Linked DNA regions of Homo sapiens. The protein of the gene in region 2 purifies or fractionates together with the protein of the main gene of each other region. This does not show direct contact. Each region holds a gene or a part of one and is shown on either strand. Other genes may lie near its edges. The genes, in order: ADGRG5, SLC25A46, SCFD1, COX15, MTCH2, DNAJC11 and CHCHD3.

The links.
Region 1: the proteins of SLC25A46 (region 2) and ADGRG5 purify together in Homo sapiens (co-immunoprecipitation; one large-scale study listed by IntAct). This does not show direct contact.
Region 3: the proteins of SLC25A46 (region 2) and SCFD1 fractionate together in Homo sapiens (co-fractionation; one large-scale study listed by BioGRID). This does not show direct contact.
Region 4: the proteins of SLC25A46 (region 2) and COX15 purify together in Homo sapiens (affinity purification with mass spectrometry; one large-scale study listed by BioGRID and IntAct). This does not show direct contact.
Region 5: the proteins of SLC25A46 (region 2) and MTCH2 purify together in Homo sapiens (affinity purification with western blotting; one large-scale study listed by BioGRID). This does not show direct contact.
Region 6: the proteins of SLC25A46 (region 2) and DNAJC11 purify together in Homo sapiens (affinity purification with mass spectrometry, with the first as the bait; one large-scale study listed by BioGRID). This does not show direct contact.
Region 7: the proteins of SLC25A46 (region 2) and CHCHD3 purify together in Homo sapiens (affinity purification with western blotting; one large-scale study listed by BioGRID). This does not show direct contact.

What each region holds. Positions count from the first base shown.
Region 1 is NC_000016.10:57,549,143-57,552,642, reverse strand, and holds part of ADGRG5 (adhesion G-protein coupled receptor G5 isoform 1 precursor), read right to left. Parts: intron 1-3,500. UniProt on the Homo sapiens protein: Orphan adhesion G-protein coupled receptor (aGPCR). Ligand binding causes a conformation change that triggers signaling via guanine nucleotide-binding proteins (G proteins) and modulates the activity of downstream effectors, such as adenylate cyclase.
Region 2 is NC_000005.10:110,763,007-110,765,657, reverse strand, and holds the end of SLC25A46 (mitochondrial outer membrane protein SLC25A46), read right to left. Parts: 3' UTR 501-2,651; downstream 1-500. UniProt on the Homo sapiens protein: Transmembrane protein of the mitochondrial outer membrane that controls mitochondrial organization.
Region 3 is NC_000014.9:30,625,319-30,628,818, reverse strand, and holds part of SCFD1 (sec1 family domain-containing protein 1), read right to left. Parts: intron 611-3,500; coding exon 540-610; intron 1-539. UniProt on the Homo sapiens protein: Plays a role in SNARE-pin assembly and Golgi-to-ER retrograde transport via its interaction with COG4. Involved in vesicular transport between the endoplasmic reticulum and the Golgi.
Region 4 is NC_000010.11:99,718,628-99,722,127, forward strand, and holds part of COX15 (heme A synthase COX15), read right to left. Parts: intron 2,442-3,500; coding exon 2,360-2,441; intron 1-2,359. UniProt on the Homo sapiens protein: Catalyzes the second reaction in the biosynthesis of heme A, a prosthetic group of mitochondrial cytochrome c oxidase (CcO). Heme A is synthesized from heme B by two sequential enzymatic reactions catalyzed by heme O synthase (HOS) and heme A synthase (HAS).
Region 5 is NC_000011.10:47,622,060-47,625,559, forward strand, and holds part of MTCH2 (mitochondrial carrier homolog 2), read right to left. Parts: intron 718-3,500; coding exon 642-717; intron 1-641. UniProt on the Homo sapiens protein: Protein insertase that mediates insertion of transmembrane proteins into the mitochondrial outer membrane. Catalyzes insertion of proteins with alpha-helical transmembrane regions, such as signal-anchored, tail-anchored and multi-pass membrane proteins.
Region 6 is NC_000001.11:6,695,317-6,698,816, forward strand, and holds part of DNAJC11 (dnaJ homolog subfamily C member 11), read right to left. Parts: intron 1-3,500.
Region 7 is NC_000007.14:132,795,591-132,799,090, forward strand, and holds part of CHCHD3 (MICOS complex subunit MIC19), read right to left. Parts: intron 988-3,500; coding exon 852-987; intron 1-851. UniProt on the Homo sapiens protein: Component of the MICOS complex, a large protein complex of the mitochondrial inner membrane that plays crucial roles in the maintenance of crista junctions, inner membrane architecture, and formation of contact sites to the outer membrane.

The DNA.
Region 1 (3,500 bases), on a different chromosome or scaffold from region 2:
AGTGATCTGGATAGAAGATCAAACCAGCCCCCGGCCAACGTTCCCTTAAGCCAAAGCCTAGTTCAGAGCAAGGCCCTAACTCTTCAATTCTATGAAGGCCAAGGTGGGTGAGGAAGCTGAAAAAACGTGGAAGCTAGCAGAGGTTGGTTCATGAGGTTTCAGGAAAAAAGCCATCTCCATGACATAGCAGTACAAAGTGAAACAGCAAGTGCTGATGGAGAAGCAAGTTATCCACAAGAACTAGCTAACATCATGCATGAGGGTGGCCACATTAAACAACAGAATTTCAGTGTAGATGAAAGAGCCTCATATTGGAAGCGGATGCCATCTAAGAGTTTCATAGCCAGAGAGAAGAAATCAATGCCTGGTTTCAAAGCTTCAAAGGACAGGCTAACTCCCTTGTTAGCGGGTAATGCAGCTGGTGACTTTCAATGGAAGCCAATACTCATTTAACATCCTGAAAATCCTAGGTCTCTTAAGAGTTATGCTAAATCTATTCTGCCTGTGCTCTACAAATGGAATAACAAAGCCTGGATGATAGCAATCTATTTATAGCATAGTTTCCTGAATATTTTAAACCCACTGTTAAGACCTACTACTCAAAAAAAAAAAAAGATTTATTTCAAAATATTTCTGCTCATCGACAATGTACCTAGTCACCCAAGAGCTCTGATGGAGATGCACAAGGAGATCAATGTTGTTCTCGTGCTGCTAACACAACATCCATTCTGCAGCCCATGGATCAAGGAGTCATTTCGACCTTCAAGTCTTATTATTTAGGAAACAAATTTCATAAGGCTATAGCTGTCATAGATAGTGATTTCTCTGATGGATCAGGGCAAAGTAAATTGAAAATCTGGAAAAGATTCACCCTTCTAGATGCTGCAAGAACATGTGATTGTGATTCATGGGAAGAAGTCAAAATATCAACATTAACAGGAGTTTGGAAGAGGTTGATTCCATGCTTCATGGACGACTTTGAGGGGTTCAAAACTTCAGTGGGGAAAGTAATTACAGATGTGATTAGAATAGCAAGAGAACTAGAATTAGTAGTGGATCCTGAAGATGTGACTGAATTGCTGCAGTCTCATGATCAAACTTGAATGGATGGGGAGTCGCTTCTCATAGATGAACAATGAGTGGTTTTTTGAAATGGAATCTACTCCTGGTGAAGATATGGTGAACACTGTGGAAATGACAACAAAAGATTTAGAATATTAAATAAATGTAGTGGATAAAGCCCCTGCAGGGTTTGAGAGGACGGACTCCAATTTTGAATGAAGCTCTACCGTGAGTAAAATACTATCAAACAGCATCACATGCTACAGAAAAACATCTTATGAAAGGAAGAGTCAACTGATGTGGCAAACTTCACTGCTGTCTTAAGAAACAGCCAGCCACCCCAACCTTCAACCACCACCACCTTGATCAGCATCAAGGCAAGACTTTCCACCAGCAAAAAAGCGTGTGATTTGTTGAAGGCTCAGATAGATTGCTAGTACTTTTTAGCAATAAAGTGTCCTTTAACTAAGGTATGTACATTTTTAGACATAATGCTTTTGTACACTAAATAGACTACAGTATAATGTAAACATAACTTTTTTCATGTGTGAGACAGTCTCGCTCTGTTGCCCAGGCTGGAATGCAGTGGTGCGATCTCAGCTCACTGCAACCTCCGCCTCCACCTCACAGGTTCAAGTGATTCTCCTGCCTCAGCCTCCCAAGTAGATGGGATTACAGGCACACACCACCATGCTCGGCTAATTTTTGTATTTTTAGTAGAGATGGGGTTTCACCATGTTGGCCAGGATGGTCTCGATCTCCTGACCTCATGATCCGCCCGCCTCGGCCTCCCAAAGTGCTGGGATTACAGACATGAGCCACCGTGCCTGGCCGTAAGCATCACTTTTATATGCACTGGGAAACCAAACAATTTGTGTGACTCACTTTATTACCATATTTGCTTTACTGTGGTGGTCTAAAACCAAACCCACAATATCTCCAAGATATGCCTGTAAAACTCCTTGGAAAAAACAAAAAAGAAAATCCTTCTGACTTAGGTTATGCAAAGATTTCTTAGAAACAACACCAAAAACGTGATCCATGGCAACAACAACAACAAAAAACTGATAAGTTGAATTTCATCAAAATTAAAACTTCTGCTTTTTGAAAGTCATGGTTAGCAAAACGAGAAGATAAGCCACAGACTGGGAGAAAATATTTACAAACACATATCTGATGTTTTTAAAAAATTGTATCTGGACTACATAAAGAACTCTTACACAACTAATAAGAGGACAAACAACCCAATAAATATAGGAAAAGATTTGAACAATCACTATACCAATGAAGATGTATATAGATGGGCCGGGCGCGGTGGCTCATGCCTGTAATCCCAGCACTTTGGGAGGCCGAGGCGGGTGGGTCACCCAAGGTCAGGAGTTTGAAACCAGCCTGGCCAACATGGTGAAACCCCTGTCTCTACTAAAAATACAACAATTAGCCAGGTGTGGTAGCATGTGCCTGTAATCCTAGCTGCTCAAGAGTCTAAGGCAGGAGAATTGCTTCAACCCAGGAGGAGGAGGCTGCAGTGAGCTGAGATCATGCCACTGCATTTCAGCCTGGGTGACAGAGCTGGAACTACATGTTAAAAAAAAAAATGTATAGATGCAAATAAGCACATGAGAAACACTCAATATCATTAGTCATTAGAGAAATGCATATAAAAACCACAATCAGATATCACTACACACCTTCTAGAATGACTAGGATTAAAATGGTAATACAAAGTATTATGAGGATATAGAACAGCTGGAAGCCTCATTCATTTCTGGAGGGAATGTAACATGGAAGTGGAATCTAGAAAAGTCAAAACTATTGGATCAGAGAACAAATCAGTAGTTGCCAGGGAGTAGGGAAAAGATATTAACTACAAAAGGGCCTGAGACAACTTTTCAGGGGACAGCAATGTTCTATATTTTGATTGTAATATACATGTATACATGACTGTACACATCTGTCAAAATGCAAAAACTCCTCTCCAAAAGGGTGAATTTTATTGTATGTATACCTCTATAGACAAGACTTTAGAAATCCAATCAAAAAACATATTAAGAGGATGAAGAAGAGGAAATAGGGGAGGGAGGGCAAGAGAACTGATGATCCTCCTCTTAGAGAAAGGAAGTCAACAAAAACTTGCAAGGCTTCAAGAGGGAGAGCCACAAAACTCAAAATATGTGTTTGATGGTAGTGGCAGAGGAAAGTAGTTAAGAACATGAGTTCTCATTTTTCCACCATTGGATCTGCAAAGATCTGAAATATGATAGCACCCAGTGAGTCTGTAGGGACAGGCACATTCCTGCACTCTCTGTCTAAGATCTGAGCCTCATCTGCAAGGGGACGGCTTAGCAACACATTCGAACTTTACGTTCTGAATATCCTTTAAGCCAGGAAACTCATTCTTATGAATTTATCCTATGGAAAGAATAGGGCAAGCCAGG
Region 2 (2,651 bases):
AAGCTGCCATTTTTAAGACTGCCATGCCACTGAACCACAGAGAAGACAGGAGCCAAGGTAAGTCAAAGCCACAAAGCTTTCCTAACAATAAGTTGCCTTTTTCTTGATTTAACATTCACATAGTTGCTGTAAACTTTTGACTGTTTTCCAGAGTCTGACAAAGTTGGTTCTGACAGTTTCTGGTTGTTTTCTTCTCTTTCCATGGAGGGATGGGAGTCTGGAGCTGCCTATTTGTCATTTTTCTGTTGTTACTCTCCTAGTTGTGAAATGCAGGACAAATCACCTCCTCTCTGTATCTATTTTATTCTTAATCAAACAGCACAACTCCAAAAATGTCATAGGGATGTGGTGAGGAGGCTATAGAGATTTTAAAAAATAGTGTGCAAAAAAGTTTAACTTCACATATTTTGTTGATCTTCCTTTCTACCTAAAAAAATATACTTCATCTTTAACCACCAGCCTGAATAGTTCTCTCACATCAGTAGGAGAAAAACAGTGGCTTTATTTCGACATTTTATTGAACTTTTCATATTACACAATTTACCCAAAACATTTAAAGTAACAGTAAGACAAACTTAAAAAAAAAAAAGTCATACAGACAAAACATCTCTAGGTGAGGCAATATGTAAATTTCATTGTCAAATCATGATTTTGTTACTCTGCTATACAACTTGGTACCATATCAATGATACTAAATGACTCAAGAGTAAGACATTATGCATTCCGTTTATATGAGAAAAAGAGATTATTTACAACTACTTGAAAGAGAAACAGAAATGCCAACAACAGTATCATTCAAATTCTAGTGCAATGTCAATTGTTACCAAGAGATCTTATTTGCTTATATAAATTTTGCAAATAATTCAAACCTGGCTATCTTATTAGAAGCTGACAAAGTATGCTTTTCTGTTGCAAAAGATCAGTGGACAAAAATCCTCCACAACCTCAGCTGATAAAACAAATTTAAGCAGCATTTTTTTTTTCCATTTCCTGAACAGATGTACTAATACTTAGGTAGAAACACTAAAGCATTTGTACTCAATCAATAAAGTGAATGCTTTGTGCAGTTTTAACAAAGCTGCTGCTAAAAAGACAGTTGTGAGTGGTCAGGTATATCTGCAATAGTAAGCAAGTTCTTACCTTTCCAGTTCTGTATGCTTCTGAAAACACCAGCTAAGGTATTAAATACCCATTTTCAAGTGACCTTGTTTTTACTATTTCATATTTATGACATCTAGTGCTGAGATTCTGGGGGCTTTAATAGATAACCTTATTAACCCAGATAATTTTTTTTGGAGCCCATAAAATAAAATTGAGAATGGCATTTCGGGAAGGTCTACATATATGTATTTAGTAAGTTAATTCGTAAGTTCACTTTACATAGTAAATTAATATTTACCAGTTTTTAATTGCTTTCAGTGTACTTGACTCAAATTAAGAAACCCTACAATGTAAGGCAAGTGTATCACAAGCTCCATGGCCAAAATTTGGCTTATATAAGAGGACCAGTGGGCCTGTGGAACATTTAATAGAATCTTTTCCATAATGCTATTAGTTCTACTGAATTAAAAAATATTATTTTGAGCTGTTATTATCTTAAGAAGTATAGCCCATGGATATTTGATTTGGCACCCATGTTAAAGAAAAATAACAATTTTTAAAAGGGAACGAGCGTATCTTACAGTTATCTCACTCATTCTTTTCAAAATTCAGTGCAACATATTTGGCTAGCTTAAATTTAAGTGCGTGACCGTTCAAGATTTTGTTTCAACTAATTTGGAGTGGTTGTAAAAAATTATTCATATTTTACTTTCTACATTTCAATTTTAATGTTAATTTGTATTCTCTTTCTCCAAAAAGGAAAACAAGATCAACCTTATTTGTGTATGGTTCAGCCTATCAGTCTTATAATTATTCTACAATAAAATGAATTTATGTAACTAACTATTTTCATGCTAACTTCCAAAAAATATCCTGAAATATTTAATTTTTAGCTAAACAAAGGATCCTACAGATTTTCACTAGTAAATACTTGATTCTATTCAGATTCTTTTCTAGAAATTTTTCAAACTTGAAATTTTCTGGTTTACTCTTATCTGAAACTATCCTAATTGAAAACAATTTAAATGCTATTGGTTGGACAAAGTAAACCTTAATCTAAAATAGTCACCATAAAATATAAAATGTGATCAGTGGTGTTTAATTTTATTTTCCCCCTTTTGGTGGAATTTAAAAATGGAAAATGTAGGTGTTTCAGTAACTACACACACACACACACGAGAGATTTGCTACTTATTACTGTTTTTACACTTTTTGGATATCACTTTTTTGTTCCAACACTACTATTTGCAAAAAGTAACCATTTCTGTGACATTTAGCAAGTAAAATGAATTTCTATTCGTATGCATTCTTGGTTGGACAATATCAGTGCAAAGTCACTGTGCTTCAGAGCGCTAAATGGTTCATGATACAACTGTGATTATTCACGTGAAGACATGAAACTTTAAAATGTCTAATGATAGAGCAGACACATATCATTTTACTACACAAAGTGCTTAACCCACCAAATTACATTTAGGAATAGACAAAATGTTTTTATTAAACTGATTAGTAATTTTTTTGCTTATTATATGTTGAAATGTACAAATGTA
Region 3 (3,500 bases), on a different chromosome or scaffold from region 2:
TCTGAAGAAAGAGAGTCTGCATGAAGTTTAAAATGAAGAAGCCTAAAGAATTGGAATTTTTAAAGGCTCTCCAGTATTTCTCAAAGGAAAAGATTGTAGATTGCTTTCTGGTTCAATTAAGTTTTATATCTCATAAATTATTAAAGTGGTATTACAGTTTACAGATCATTTTCTCATGAGTTTGTTAAAATAATCCAGGCCCTCTGAATGTGACTAACTCCGAGCAAGCTTATAAAATCCAAAGTCTGGACTTGAAAAGCTAAGGAACAAAATATCAACCAGGAAAAAGACCTATCAGTGACATCCTACCAAAGAGATCAACTGGACTCCCTAGATGAAAATTACTATTTTATCACTTGTCTCACTCCATAGAATGTCTGTCAAAACAATTCATATTAAGAGATCATGTTAAATAAGGATAAAACATTCATGATAACTAATATGTGTTACTTCTTCCATATTACAATAAATTCCCTCCAATTACCACCAATAAGGGCTGAGAAAAACAGAAATCAGTTCCCATTAAGATAAACTCTTACCTTCCATACTGGTTCTCCTGTGCTGTTTTTAATATGAGGCACATTGAAATTCAACATACGCTTCAAAGCCACTGAAAATAAAAAGTTTTATCAAATATTGTCATTGTTTTTTAGGATTTTATTTTTCCTCCATCATCATTCACTACCCCAAAGCAAAATAAACTAATCAACTCTAGTAAAACTGATTAACCAAATGACTATATGTGTAGAACTAGGGGTCAGATCTTGTAAGACTATTCCATCGACAGCTAATTGACATGTATTTGGGAGATTTCCCAAAACACAATAAGCATCTGTCCACAGATGAAATCGCGGGAAATGTTCAGGAAGAACTTGCAATGGCCTCAATATACTGATGCTGTTGCCTGTGTACTGTCTGGCTGAAAGCATAGATTAAGGTAAGTCTTTTTTTTTTTTTTTTTTAAGTCTGAGTGGTCTAGTGAGAAGGATCAGTCTGTCTGTCTGTTTTTTTTTTTAAGTGTGAGTGGCCTAGTGAGAAAGATCAGTCTTTCTTTTTTTTTTTTTTTTTTTTTTCTGAGACAGAGTTTCGCTCTTGTTGCCCAGGCTGGAGTGCAATGGCGTGATCTCGGCTCACCACAACCTCTGCCTCCCAGGTTCAAGCAGTTCTGCTTCAGCCTCCCGAGTAGCTGGGATTACAGGCATGCGCTGCCATGCCCGGCTAATTTTGTATTTCTAGTAGAGATGAGGTTTCTCCGTGTTGGTCAGGCTGGTCTAGAACTCCCGACCTCAGGTGATCCACCCGCCTTGGCCTCCCAAAGTGCTGGGATTACAGGCGTGAGCCACCACGCCCGGCCTGGATCAGTCTTTCTAAAAACAAAATTATCCATGGCATATTCAATTGGTTCATATACAAAACCTTCATACAGATCTGTCTATAGTTATGTAAGAGTATATTTTACAAACAATTTATCCTGTCAGATTCACCGAAAAGTTGCTTAAAATTCTATGTCCCTTGGGAAAACAGACTTTCCCATATAGTAGATAACTGATAATTCCAGCTAAGCAAATATACAACATCAAAAATCACAGTTACGGGTCTGTTACAGTATTTTGTGTTATTTATCACTCATCTGTAACAGTGTTACAGAAAATGAAAATCCCTTAATATACTTCTTCGTGAAACTGAGATGGCCAAATATTCAAGAGAGTATACTAGTTGTAATTTCTTGATTTAATTTTTATAAAATTGACAGCCTTAAAATCCACTTGGTTGATTGTTAAAAACATTTGCATCAGGCTTTAAGTAATACAGAATAACCTATACTCCAAAGTCCTACGAGAGAACTATGTAATACTAAAATCACCTGAATATCAACTTACAGCATATTCATTCACTCACAAGAAAAACTTCTATTAAATGCTTGCTTGCTGAGGTAGGTATAATGCTGTTAAAACTGCTATTACTGAACAGATTGTACTTCAGTGATACATTTGCATACTTATGTGTGTGTACATACTGTTGTGCCGAACCCTTATTGCCTCCAGTGGGGAAGATACCCATGTTTGAGAGGCCTAAGAAGAGACCCGGAGCCAGGAAATGAGACACAGGGTTTTAATGGGGGCAACACACATAGGAGAGTCCAGTGACAGTGGGCTGGACAGGAGAACTGTATACTCAGTGGCAATGCGCTGGGCAGGAGAACCATAACTGCATGCAAAAAGTGGTTTATATAGCAAAAATGTGGTTTATACAGCATTTTCACTTAACATTTCCCTAACAACCTCCACCTGGCAACCTTCATTCAACCCAAAACTCGGGGCCTTGATCCACTGCATGGCCTATGTTTCACTGGATGGGCTGGGGGCTCAGATGTTCCTCACAGACAAGGAATGAATCTCCAGGTGGGCCATTTTGATTCCCTAGCTTGAAACACATATCCAGGTGTGTCTGCAATACAGGGTCATTCTCAGGGCACGCTTAAGTTATTGCTATCAGGTGTATTTACCATACACCTACAGACATAATTTTTGGTAAAATGTTATTACCTAATGTCCAGCCAAAAATACACATTACCAATATTACCTACTTCAGAGGCCCACAGGTTTTACATTAAATAAAAATGTATTTTATTTAATGTATTTATAATATTAAATATATTTAATATAAACAAAAAAACAGTTTAACACTTAAAACTGAAATAACACAGGAAGCACGGAGGGGGTTTCAGGATTAACTCTCCCACTGTGCATTTGCAGAGCTCTTCCTCCACCTCCAGGCAATAAAGACACCACCACCCTGGCACTCACGCCCAAGAGGGAGGAAACCCTGTTTCTGGGAACAGCTGTTCACACTCTTGAAGCCTGACAACTTGGAAGAACGAAAGCCTGAGCTGCCATGTGAGCCTCAGGTGTTTAGTATGCTGCACAGTTAGGCCTTAGCTAACTGAAAGAGGCCAGCAGCAGCAAATAAGATAATCCTACATTCGCCTTCTCAGCCCAGTCTGAGATTTTCTCCAACTTTGAGCCTTGGCTAACTTATTAAAAGGTATTTTGATATACCTTTTACCTATATCAATATACCTATTGATATACCTATATACCTATATACCTATATACCTATACCTATATAGGTATACCTATATGCCTATATACCTATACCTATATAGGTATACCTATATGCCTATATACCTATACCTATATAGGTATACCTATACCTATAACAAAAAGGATTTGTTAATGGAGTACACGGCCTGTGTTCAGAGTTTACAAGAACGTAATTTTACTTTTATCAGAGTTTACCCAAGGCTTAAACCATGACTTTATCTGAAATGACAAACCATTTTTCTTATTGGCTCTAAATATACTACAGGTTGAGCATCCCAAGTCTTAATATCTGAAACCTGAAATGCTCCAAAATCAAAATTTTTTAAGCTGGTGCTCGGATTTTGAAATTTGGGATGCTCAACCAGTAATAATGCAAATATTCCAAAATCAAAAACA
Region 4 (3,500 bases), on a different chromosome or scaffold from region 2:
TCTGCAACAGGAGTTCTCCAACAGAGAAGATACATCACAATCACCAAGGAAACTTCAAATCTCTGCATCCTTACCTGCTCCCACCCCAAGATTCTGCTTCCTCTAGAGAAGTGGAGTAGAGGCTGTGGTGTGGGGGGAGGGGGAGAGGCTTATTAGCTTAGAAAAATTCCCTTAGTGATTTTGATGCCCTCCTCACCCCGCCACTGAGTGCTACTGATTTATTTTAGAAATGCTCTCCCACAGATGTCTGCATGACTGACTCCCTTATTTCCTCAGCTTCCACTCAGATGTCACCTTACCAAAGAGATTTCGCTTGATGATCCTAGCCCACTTTCTGTCTCCTGACCCTAATTTATTTTTCTTCATGGCACTAAATATCATCTAGCACATTATGTTTCTATTGTGCGTTATCTGTCTTCCCCAAATGCTCAATAAATGTTTGTTGACTGAATACGGAAGTGAGAAAAATCCCAAAACTTATAAACTAAATCCTGGATAAACAAATAAAGAGGGTATTCATGAATTAATGGATGTCTGATCCATTATTTATTATCAAAGAAAATCCAGAAATGTTTGGGTCACACTCGCTTTTTTCTTTCTTTTTTTTTTTGAGACGCAGTCTGGCTCTGTCCCCCAGGCTGGAGTGCAGTGGCATGATCTCGGCTCACTGCAACCTCTGCCTCCAGGGTTCATGCAATTCTTCTGCCTCAGCCTCCCGAGTAGCTGGGACTATAGGTGCGCCCTTTGGTAGAGACGAGGTTTCACCACGTTGACCAGGCTGGTCTCGAACTCCCAACCTCAGGTGATCCGCCTGCCTCGGCCTCCCAAAGTGCTGGGATTACAGGCATAAGCCACCATGCCTGGCCTTTTTTTCTTTTTTTGAGTCAGGGTCTTGCTCTGTCACCCAGGCTGGAGTGCAGCAGCGCAATCTCCGCTCACTGCAGCCTCGACCTCCTGGGCTCAAGCAATCCTCCCGCCTCAGCCCCCTGAGTAGCTGAGACTACAGGTGAATACCACCACACATGGCTAATTTTTGTATTTTTTGTAGAGACGAGGTTTCACCATGTTGCCCAGGCTGGTCTTGAACTCCCTGGCTCAAGCAATCTACCTGCCTCAGCATCCCAAAGTGCTGGAATTACAGGTGTGAGCCACCATGCCCAACCCACTCCATATTTTTTTTAAATGTCCCTTATGAAGTAAAAATTCATGCTCTTATGCCAAAAATAAAAGTGTTGAGTGGCTCATTGGTTTGAATCAATATTATTTTTAGTCCAGAGCAGTACTATCAATAGAACTTTCTGTGAGAGTGGAAGTATTCTATATTTGTGCCAACCAATATACTAGCCCCTAGCCACATGTGCCTGTGGAGCATCTGAAATGTTGCTAGTGTGACTGAAGAACTAAATTTTAAATTTTATTTAACCTTAATTAATTTAAGTTTAAATATCCACATGAGGCTACAGGCTCCTCTACTGGATAGTGCAGTTCTAGAATGAGAGCAGCAGTGGTGGAAGTGTGGGTTAAAGAATGAAAACGGCCAGGCATGGTAGCTCATGCCTGTAATCCCAGCACTTTGGGAGGCTAAGGCGGGTGGATCACCTGAGGTCAGAAGTTCGAGGCCAGCCTGGCCAACATGGTGAAACCCCATCTCTACTAAAAATACAAAAATCAGCTGGGCGTGGTGGTGTGCACCTGTAGTCTTAGCTACTCGGGAGGCTGAGGCACGAGAATCGCTTGGATTTAGGGAGGCAGAGGTTGCAGTGAGCTGAGATCATGCCACTGCACTCCAGCCTGGGCAACAGAGTGAGACTCAGTCTCAAAAAAAAGAATGAAAAAATCCTGTGTTGGTCTCTCTGTGCCAATGAACTCTCCACCTGCAACCATCTCTGAGGGCAAGCCTTTTCTCTGACCCATGTTGATGTAATGTGATGATAACAATGTTTATATATAGTAACAGCTAACACTTATGTAGCCTTTGCTACATGCCAACAACGATGCTACACATTTCACATTTAGCAGTCATACTGTTGTCGTAATCTCCATTTTATAGATAAGGTCTCTAAGGCCCAGAGAGGTTACAGAGCTTGCAAAGGTCATATAGTTCACAGGTAGTGAAGCCAGGATTTGAACCTAGGCCATCTGGATCTAGGTAGATGTTCAATATTTTTGTTCAATTGACAGTAAAGTAGAATTTTTGGAAGAGAGAAAGGAACAGGAAACAGGGTGAAGATGGGGGAATGAGAGAAACAGATGTGAAAAGGAAATATAAAGATGCAGGAGGAAGGGGCAAAGCATTAGGCAAGAGGTCCCAGCTTAGAGTGCAATGCAAACAGGTCATCTTTGATGAGCTGAGTCCTACCTGAGAGGGCCGTAAGGAACACCAGACCTGCTGTTCCATGAGCAAATCGTCTCAACTGTAGGAGTTGGTGGGTTTCAGGCAACTAAATATGAAAAAAAATCATTCAGTTAAACTGTGTTGCAGGAACAATGAGAGGCAGCAAAGATCTCTAAGGCCAAACCCAAGTGACAAATTAAGATCAGATCTTCTCTGACCCCTAGACTAGGTTAAGTACTCCTGGCAGATATTCTGTTCCAACATGTACTGTATTTTATTATAATTATAGATTACTATCTGTTTTCCCTTCTACCCCATAAGTTTTGTGAAGGCAGGAACTGCCATCTTTTTTACTAGAGCAATCTTAGCCTAGTGATTGGCACATAGGTACTCATTACGCATCTGTTCAAAAACTGAATGATTTCCATTATTCAGGAAACAATGCTTCATCACGGTTGAAAGGATGTAGCTTAAGATCAGGACTGGATTTTCATGTGTGTGATATTAGTGTTTAGCAAATATAGTCAGAATCAAAATTGCATAAAGTGCTTAGAGATTCCTCCATTTAGTGTTTTTGATAAAATCAAAATTTGTTTTTATTCTTATTACCAACTTCTAATACTAATAAGTGAATCATCAAATATGAATAAGAACTTTATAAACAGGTGACTATGCCACCCTCAAATGGCTTACACTCTACTATATGAAAAGTTAGGTATCATTACTAACATATTATAGGACAGTATATCAGCACTGTCCAATAGAACTTTCTGTGATGGAAAAGTTCTATCATCTACCTAAGGAGAGCTTGAAACATGTGGCTAGTATGACTGAAAATTAAATAAAAAATTAATTTTATTTAAATATAAAGTTTAAATAAACAAAAAGCTTATGTAAATAAATTTTATTTAATTAAAAAAATTTTTTTTCTCACTTTGTCGCCCAGACTGGAGTGCAGTGGCACAATCTTGGCTCACTGCAACCTCCACCTCCCAGGCTCAAGCGATTCTCCTGCCTCAGCCTCCCAAGTAGCTGGGATTACAGGTGCGCGCCACTATTGCCCAGCTAATTTTTTAACTTTTAGTAGAGATGGGGGTTTCACTATGTTGGCCAGGCTGGTCTCAAACTCCTGACCTCAAATGATCCACCCGCCTCAGCCTCCCAA
Region 5 (3,500 bases), on a different chromosome or scaffold from region 2:
CATCATGTTGCCTCAACTGGTCTCAAACTCCTAGGCTCAAGCAATTTGCCCACCTAGACCTCTCGAAGTGCTAGAATTATAAGCGTGAGCCACTGCACCCAGCCCATTATTTTATTTTCCAATAAAGCTTTGCCTAGATAATAAATAATTTTTTGTTGCAGATTATACACCTCATAGTAATAACAAACCCTAAATTGGTATCTAGGCAAAATCATCCACTAACAAGACTCTAGAAGTATAAGACCAGCTCTGTCAATACCACTGTGACAAATAAGTGGTTATGAAAGGTGAGTTTGGGGGAAAAAAAGAGTCTAAAATCAAGGCCATCATTTTACCAGGATAATAATCTACCTGGATCGTATTTGTAAGTTGAATGTGGGCACTCAAATGGCTTCTAGGTCTCATCTAGGGATTCTTTCTTCTTCATTACTCCTGCTCATGATTTCTAAACATCACATTTTACTATTATGCCAAAGTGAAAACACAGAACACTGTAAAGTGTACATTAACTGGCAGACTAGACTAACTCTAGCTAAAGTGAGCTACAAGAGTTAACTTGGGATTCCAGAGACAATATTTAAGAAAACAAATAAATAAAAATAAAACAAAATAAAATGAGAGAGACAGAGAAAAAGAAATACCTCTTTTTGTAGCATGCACCAACAGTCTATCCAAGACGTATATATTGGGGAGTAAGGAGGGCATCCACCAGCAAGACTAAAATAGAAAAAAACATGGAGCTATTCATGTTAATATTAACCATTCTCTTGAGACGTTGATAAACCTTGTCAAAATATTCTGCTGCACAGAAGATTCCCTGAGAGATCATTTTAGTTCAATGAAACAAATCATATTGAAGCAGGGGAACGATCAAGCATCCAAAAGAGAATTCCTCCCCTATATTTAGGTTTCAAATAAATAAATAAACATAAACTTCAACCTTAATTTCTAAAACATTTAGACTTTTCCTTTGTGGACAAATGAAACTCCAGAACACAGCATTTACATGATTAAAGAGCAGGGAAAGGTGGCCGGGCACGGTGGCTCACACCTGTAATTCCAGCACTTTGGGAGGCCAAGGCAGGTGGATCATTTGAGGTCAGGAGTTCAAGACCAGCCTGGCCAACATGGTGAAACCCCATCTCTACTGAAAATACAAAAACATGAGCTGGCATGGTGGCGCATGCCTGTAATCCCGGCTACTTGGGAGGCTAAGGCATGTGAATTGCTTCAACCCAGGAGGCGGAAGTTGCAGTGAGCCAAGATTGCACTACTGCACTCCAGCCTGGGTGACAGAGTAAGAACCAGTCTTTTTTTAAAAAAAAAAAAAAAAAAAAAGAGCAGGGAAAGGAGATTTAAAAACTAACTGGTGTTCACAAAGATACTAAACATGAAAACGGATATAAACAGTAGATATATATGTTCCTACTTAGGTATAATCACTTCATCTTGAAAAAACTGTAAATAATAATAATACATTTAATTCATCCTTCAAGTTTACACTGTGCTAAAAAATGGCAGTTGCTCTACGTATCAGAAAACATCACAGCTTGCCAGGAGTAACATGAAACAAACAAAACCAGAAAACAAACAATGTAAAATGTTCAAAACTCCACATAGCTATCTGATCTTATTTGAAAACAGTAACATGTTTAATGATATGTCAGGTACCATATGGGAAAAGAATTTTGAATTAAACAAAAAAGGCAAGGCTGGGTGCAGTGGCTCACGCCTGTAATCCCAGCACTTTAGGAGGTCGAGGAGGGTGGACCACTTGAGGTCAGGAGTTCGAGACCAGCCTGGCCAACATGGTGAAACACTGTCTCTACTAGAAATACAGAAATTAGCCGGGGGTGGTGGCAAGTGCCTATAATCCCAGCTACTCTGGAGGCTGAGGCAGGAGAAGTACTTGAACCCAGGAGGTGGAGGATGCAGTGAACCAAGATCGCGCCACCACAATCCAGCCTGAGCAACAGAGCAAGACTCTGTCTCAACAATAACAACAACAAAAAAATACAAAAAATTAGCCAGGCATGCTGGTGGGCACCTGTAATCCCAGCTACTCAGGAGGCTGAGGCAGGAGAATTGCTTGAACCTGGGAGGTGGAGGTTGCAGTGAGTCGAGATTGCACCACTGCACTATAGCCTGGGCAACAGAGTGAGACTCCATCTCAAAAAAAAAAAAAAAAAGGCAAAATTTTGCCCAACTCAGTAGAGTCACTTGGCATCTAGAATTTGGAAATCAATGGAGTCTACCACTATACCAAAACCTGCCCTTCTAACCAATACAGAGAAAAGGTCATCAAACTTTCCATAGACTAAATATCCTAATTCTGGTTCTTTAAAACTCACTTTCTCCATAAAGCCCCTAGGAAAAACAGGTATGGATTGTCATTTAATCCCTGATATACCTTTTGTCACTTTCATAGAAAAGATAAAGATTTAAAATAACAATATGTTGGCTGGGCATGGTGGCTCACCCCTGTAATCCCAGCACTTTAAGAGGCTGAGGAAGGAGAATCACTTGAGCCTAGAAATTTAAGAACAGCCTGGGCAACAAAGTGAGACCCTGTGTCTTCACAAAAAATAATTAGCCAGGCATGGTGGCATGCACATGTACTCCCAACTACTTGGGAAGCTGAGATGGGAGGATCCCTTGAGCTCAGGAGTTCAAGGCTGCAGTGAGCTAGGACTTCACCACCACATTGCAGCCCTATCTCTAAAAAAATTAAAAATAAATAAAAATAGGCCAGGTGCAGTGGCTCACGCCTTTAATTCCAGCGCTTTGGAAGTCCGAGGTAGGCAGATCACCGGAGGTCAGGAGTTCAGGACCAGTCTGGCCAACATAGCAAGACCCCATCTCTACTAAAAATGCAAAAATTAGCCCAGCATGGTGGCACATGCCTGTAATCACAACTTCTTGGGAAGCTGAGGCATGAGAACTGCTTGAATCCAGGAGGTGTCTGTTGCAATGGAGCGAGACTGCACCACTGCACTCCAGCCTGGGTGACAGAGTGAGATTCTGTCTCAAAAAACAAAAACAAAAACAAAAACAAAAACTATAAATAATAATAGTAATTGGCCTGGCATGGTGGTTCATGCCTGTAATCCCAGCACTTTGGGAGACTGAGGCGGGTGGATCACTTGAGGTCAGGAGTTCGAGACCAGCCTGGCCAACATGGTGAAACCCTGTCTCTACCAAAAATACAAAAATATTAGCTGGGCATGGTGGCGAATGCCTGTAATCCCAGCTACTCAGGAGGCTGAGGCGGGACAATCACTTGAATCCAGGAGGTGGAGGTCGCAGTGAGCCGAGATCATGCTACTGCACTCCAGCCTGGGCAACATAGCAAGACTCCATCTCAAAAAAAAAAAAAATAATAATAATAATTAATAAATAAATACAAATTGAGGCTGCTGCTGCATAGGGCATACAAAGAAAAAAATTAGGAATCTTCTAATGGTATCAATTATACTTTTCCTCCCCCCCTTTTTAAAAAA
Region 6 (3,500 bases), on a different chromosome or scaffold from region 2:
GTAAGCAAAACTTCAAACTTATCAAAATCCAAGAAATAACAATATATATTAACTAAATACCTACTTATGACAGGCAATTTATATACATTCTCAGCACCTAGCAACGCACATACCACACAGGTCATCCTGGCCTACAGTAAGTGCTTAAGCCATTATTACCTGTTACCTACATTCTAACATTAAAGAAACTGATGGCCAGGTGCAGTGGCTCATGCCTGTAATCCCAGCACTTTGGGAGGCCGAGGCGGATGGATCACGACGTCAGGAGTTTGAGACCAGTCTGGCCAACATAGTGAAACCCTATCTCTACTAAAAAAAAAAAAAAAAAAAAAAAAAAAAAAATTAGCCGGGTGTACTGGTGTGTGCCTGTAATCCCAGCTACTTGGGAGGCTGAGGCAGGAGAATTGCATGAACCTAGGAGGTGGAGGTTGCAGTGAGCTGAGATTGCGCCATTGCACTCCAGCCAGGGTGACAGTGTGAGACTCCATCTCAAAAAAAAAAAAAGAAATTGAGAAACAGAAAGGTTAAATTACTAGCGTTGAAGCATAGAACTTCCAGAAGAGTAAAATGGGATTTGAATACTGGACTCCAGCTGCAAAGCCCTACATAGTGGCCTCCCTCTATCCCATTGTTAACTAAGAAGTACTGGTGCCTCCATTCTGCAGGTAAGTAGAGGCTGAGGTTAAATGACTCGTTGAAGGTCACACAAGAGGCAGGCAGCATGGGCTGAAATTCTTGCTTCTCAGCCTCTTGGCTTACAGAACACCCTATGGAATGCAGACATCTGAATAAGTTGTTTTTGGACAACCGAGGCTTAATTCTATGTGCCTGAGGCACACATTTAACTGGAGTCATTATAAATATCAAACTTTAACATAATGTAGTAGATGGAAAATGAAGGAACTGACCTTTTCAGAGCCATCTTTATTTTTTATTAAGACAAAATTAACTGCCCATCATGAAGTTTGATAAGAAAGCAATAAATGTGTAAACACACACCACCTCACTGCTTTAGGTATTTGAGTCGCTCAAATTGGCACAGTTGAGCCTTTTACATGTCAATTTCTGCAGATGGCTGAGTCAGTGGTCCTGATTGGAGGGTCTGCTGTCTCCTTCTTTGTGGGTGACTTTGACCCTAGGACAATCTTGCCAGTGACCAGGGGACCTTCCTCTACTCTTCTAGCCCTTCCTTTCCATCTGCAGCTCAAACTCAACTGTTGGGCCTCACTCTGTGGCTGTAACCTGCAGCTAAGGAAACCCCAACAACACACAATTGTGAAAATAATGATCTACCCTGTACCAGAGAAGGAATGAAAATGCAGGGACTTGGGGTAAACTTTTTACTGGTAGGTGATACTTTTGTACTTCTAGTTTCATGGCTGTTCTGGAAGGATGAAGATCTCAGAACACTGACCTCCATATATGGACTGCAAGAAAAAAACTATTTATTAACAACTTCATTTTTTACTTAACTGTGTTTTTCCAAAAGTGTTTAAAAGTTGAAAAGGAGGATGGCTCCTTAAGGTTAAAACAATTGGGACCAGAGGTCTTCAAACAGGTTACAAACACTGCAAAAATGAAATTCTTTCAAAGACAATGATAAAGTTAGAACTGTAGCCATTTGTCTTGGGAATAAATTAGGTTTGAAATGTGTCAATTAAATTTCCTAATTAATGGATCAGGTAAATTTAACTCTGATTTATAGTTAAGGAATCCTTTCTCCAAATAAATTTTGGAAAATCATCCTGGAAATCTCAGAGGAGTGAGATTTTAGGAACCAGATGATGCATCTAACACTAAACCAGAAAACCTGTCTGGCTTTGGTGTGCCCAGTGAGTGATAAAGTACTCCCTCCTCTCAGTGTGAGGCAGGCACGACAGATGATGGCCCTGCTCTGTAAACAGGAAATCTAGAAGGAGAATCATTAAAGATCATGTGTCTTGTCATAGGAGAACGGGGGGTCCTTTCCAGCTGCCTGCTTCACTCTCTCCAACGGCGGCAACAATGGGGTCTCCAACCTTTTAGCACCACGGACTGGTTTCATGGAAGATAATTTTTCCACAGACTAGTGGGAGTGGAATGAAACTGTTCCACCTGGGATCATCAGGCATTAGTCAAATTCTCATAAAGAGGACCTAACCTAGATCCCTTGCATGTGCAGTTCCCAATAGGGTTCATGCTCCTATGAGAAGCTAATGCCACCACCAATCTGACAGGCAGAGCTCAGGCGGTGATGCTTGCTTGCCCGATGCTAACCGCTTGCTTGCCCGACGCTAACCGCTTGCTTGCCCACCACTCACCTCCTGCTGTGCGGCCCAATTCCTAACAAGCCACAGACCAGTACTGGTCCATGGCCAGGGGGTTGAGGACCCCTGCTCTAGAATACAAATTTAAGGGGATATTTTAAAGTTTAAATCCTGGAGAGGGAGATTCTTCAGCTGATTGTTGACATTTCTATATTAATCCAATTATATACCTCTATTATGCTTATAATTTTTTTTTTTTTGAGACAGAGTCTTGCTCTGTCACCCAGGCTGGAGTGCAGTGGCGCAATCTCGGCTCACTGCAAGCTCCGCCTCCTGGGTTCACACCATTCTCCTGCCTCAGCCTCCTACAGGCGCCCGCCACCACGCCCGGCTAATTTTTTGTATTTTTAGTACAGACGGGGTTTCACCGTGTTAGTCAGGATGGTCTCCATCTCCTGACCTCGTGATCCGCCCGTCTTGGCCTCCCAAAGTGCTGGGATTACAGGCTTGAGCCACGCGCCCAGCCTATGCTTATAATTTTAAAGTAGGATTCCCTGGTTTTGTCTAGAATTGTTTCCATTTGAGATTTCTAAAGAAAACTCTCTGAACTCTACTGAACATTGAGAGTTTTGAGGACACTCTTTTGAAGGTACTTTGAAGTATCAGTGGGAACAGGGCCTTGCCTCTCACAGCTATACTTAAATGGCAACTACTCTAGAACTGACAGCAAACACACAAACAGGTATTAAGATATTCTTCCAACCACACATTAAGATTTAAGATTACTCTGACTTTTTTCCAACTAAATCACGTTATTTCAACTTCACGTTTGATTTCACACAAAAAATTCCAGCAAATATCAAGTTCAGACATCACCTTCAGAGCTTCTAATGGAATCCCGGGATGGAAAACCAGCACACCACACCTGAGTATGACATTTAACACCGAGTTTGCTGACGAAGACAACAGAAAGTGACTTCTGCAAGGGAGCATGTTTCATATGGATTTAACCTATAGCCATATAGCCATAAATATGGAAAGTGCCTTCACTCATTGGGAGAAGTAAAAAAAAAAAAAAAATTTAAGAAATATTTTTTGGCTGGGTGCAGTGGCTCATGCCTGTAATCCCAGCACTTTGGGAGGCTGAGATGGGTGGACTGCTTGAGCTCAGGAGTTTGAGACCAGCCTGGGCAACACAGTGAGACCCTGTCTCTACAAAAACTACAAAAATCAGCCAGCTGTGGTGGTGTGTGC
Region 7 (3,500 bases), on a different chromosome or scaffold from region 2:
TATAACTACATCAAATTAGACTGCAGAAAGGCATGCTGTGTAACTTAAACACTAGATTTAGTTGGGTTAGAAGGTCAAATCTATGGAGTTTGTCAGCAGAAGGAATCAACGTTTCCAACAATTTCTGCCTCTCAGAACAACCATATCCAACTGTTAAATTGGTTAAATGATAGGCAATTATGTGACCTGCCAGAATTGATAATTTGCTTCAGGGTTTATCATTAGCTTTCTAAAGTACATAAATTAGAGAAAATGCACGTCCTGTGAACATCATATTGTTCTGATATGAAGGGTCAAGAGAAGAATATGGCTATGGTCTATAAAAGCAGTGGAAATTCTTTTTAAAATGCTATCTCTGGTTTCCCTTTCCCTGTCCAACTAAGTGAACTCTATCAACTGGTGGAAGCGTTGGACAGTGACTGAACGGTGGTGTTTTGTTTTTTTTTTAACCTGGCCCTCTGCCTACCTACGGCTTATGGGCCCAAAGGTGCCAGCTCTTAATCTGTATCCTCTTCGCTAGCTCTAAATATTGGCCTAAAAGTATGAGGAATGACCTTGGGAACATTATTATTAGAAGACAAAAGTTCAGGGCAAGTGGAAAAAAGTATAATTGTAGTAGAATCCTTTTTTCTGCAAGTAAATGAGTTGTACATAAGGAAGATATGGGCTCTTTGACAATGATCGGACACAAGTTATGCCCTAATCAACTCATTACAGTAATTCTTGATGATGATGACTAGGGCTTAGAAAGCTTTTTCACACACAGTGGCCCATTTAGTCCTTACCACTGCCCCAGGTCATCCAGTTTTCAATTTGCCCAGTGCCCCCAGTGGCCTGGCTGGCACACCTACCTGTTTGGCATGATTGACACAGTGCATATACTGGGTGGCCAGAGCGGAGCATTTGAGGGTCTGGTGGGTGTTCTCACGGTAACACTGAAGAATTTTGGCCTGCAGATCAGCACAGACTGGATGAGACTCATATCGCCTGAAAACAAACACAGGGACCGCTGAGACCAATGGTCTTCATTCAGAATAAAAATCAAGGTTAAAGAACACATAAAACGCACAGTAAGACACAGATGTTGCAAATGTAGAAAAAGGTTTAAGAGAAAGAATTTTCCTTAAACTTCAAAGATAGCTAAATTTTTCCCATGATAAAAATGACAAAGGGTAAATAAATTCTAAGAAATTAGTTCCACTAATTGACACTACTGTGAGTTAGTCTGGACAATATAACCATCCCTTCCAAACCGAAACCATATCAACATGCCAGAAACTTGGAAGCCCTAAGTTCTCTCTTCCATTCCCATATCCACTTGGTCACAAAGTTGGAGATCCCTACGGCCTGGTCCTCCTGCTCCACACTCACTGTCGTTACATTGCTTCCAAGTGAGCCACATCCTGAATTCAAGAAACAACCTCCCAGCTGGTCTCTCAGCTTTGACACCCTCTACTCCTGCCTGCACACACCTTCCAGAGGGTTCTTTCCCATAGGAAATCGAAGATGGTCTCTTTTCCCAGCACTTTCTACACAAAATACAAGGCCAGCTGGCTGGTCCTTCTTGACCAGGTTCCTGCCTACTCTGTGGCCTTCACCCCCCAACCCTGCACACAGCTGAAGCCTGGACAAACCCAATTCAGGGTTTCGTTCTTACACTTCTCTTCAAGTCTAAGCTCATGCTGCTCTTGCTTCTGGAAATGCTCTACGCCCAAACTCCCACCTATGCCTCTATATCTGGAAAAAACCTACTCATCCTTTGATACTTCACTCAAGTGTCAGCTTTCATTAGCTCTCCACCCCCCAACCCTGGTACAGTCTATCATTCCCTTTATGGTGACCCCATTGGTCCCGTATTCACTTTTCTTGCCATGCATGTGACACTGACTACACCATAGTCTAATACAATTTAGCAACCTACATTTACTAGAATGTAAATTCCAAGGACTGTGACTTATTTTCTTTGTTACCTCAGCTATTAGACATCGGAACCCTACAGAAGTCATGTAATACATTTACTGAATGAATACAAATCGGTGCAAAGAAAACATTTTAAAGTCCCCTGGGTTAAAATTTTGCTACTTATACTTACAAATCTCAGATTTTAGTCAGATTGCTTCTGTGAATATGTGAGACCAAATGTAAATGTTTCCAAAAACCTTATAATATATGCTTGAAAAATGATAATGAACCAAATGAGTTATACGAATGAAGGTAAAATATTCTGATTAATACGGCAGGGAAGTTTGGACTGCAAGGATTAAATACATACAGAGAAAAAAAGCACAATATTACTACTTTTAATCTTGAAATTCGTGTTTTTTCAAATTAGTCTTAATACAAGAAGCTTCCAGTCTTATCACTTCTATTTTTGAAATTTAAATTTGTTATTTCCATAGTAATCTTGAAATCACATTATTTTAAATTTAATGGGTTCAAACAAAACCCCTAGAGAACACAGGGGGAATATTTCTCATCAATAAGGAAACGCCTGGGTGATGATTTGTCTCATTATTTTTATCCAGTACACTAAGCTAATATATATTTTACTAGAATAGAAATGCAAAGCATGTTGGTGGTTCCCTGACTTCCTACTATCCTCTAAAGAACACAGACATACAGAGAAAAAAAAATGTTTCAACAATTTTTCTATAACATCACTTTTACTTTTTCATTCATTACCTTACTGCTTTGTCAAATACCTAAGAACAGAATTAAATAGAATCCCAGGAGTTTCCATGCTTTAAGATTTCAAACTTCAGATGTCTGTGAATTTTTCTGGACACAGATTTCCCTAATCCTTTACCACGAACATCAGGATTTAAAAGGAATCAGCCGTGCTTCAAAGAGTATAGGCACAGATACCACTAAGTGACTAATTATAGCAAGACCTGCATCTAGATAAATATCGAATAAAATATGATTAAGCATCAGATCAGCTGAACCTAGCAAATACATGACTAATGACTAATAGCTCATAGGAAAGCAAGGTTACATTCTATCCTAGTGTTGACAACTGATCGTGTCTCCAATGTGTCTCAGATTTAAAAGCAGGGGGAAGGAGGTGAGGAGGGAAGGCTAGAACAACCCTGACCAGATATGCAGCCCTTCCTCATTAACATACGGGAAAAGACTGTAAAAATGAGCATCCACACACTGCATGTCATAAAGAAGACAGTTTATTTTTTCCTTTAAAAAGTCTACTCACGATGGGATAATTCACCTCATGTTATGGACTCCTTAGAAAGAGGTAGTTTAAGTTGTAGATAAGCATGTATCCTGGGTTGAGCTATTAGTCATGCAAGTTAAAGTCCATGCGTTATTTATGATTTGAAATGTGTCAAAATATACTTTTATCACCACAAATCAATACTACTCACTTCCAGGGCTCTTGATTTCCTGTTTGGTGATCTGTTCTGTGTGTGTGTGTGTGTGTGTGTGTGTGTGTGTGTGTGTGTGTGCAGTCATCCTCTGAAATTCTTTTTGTACACACTTCAATC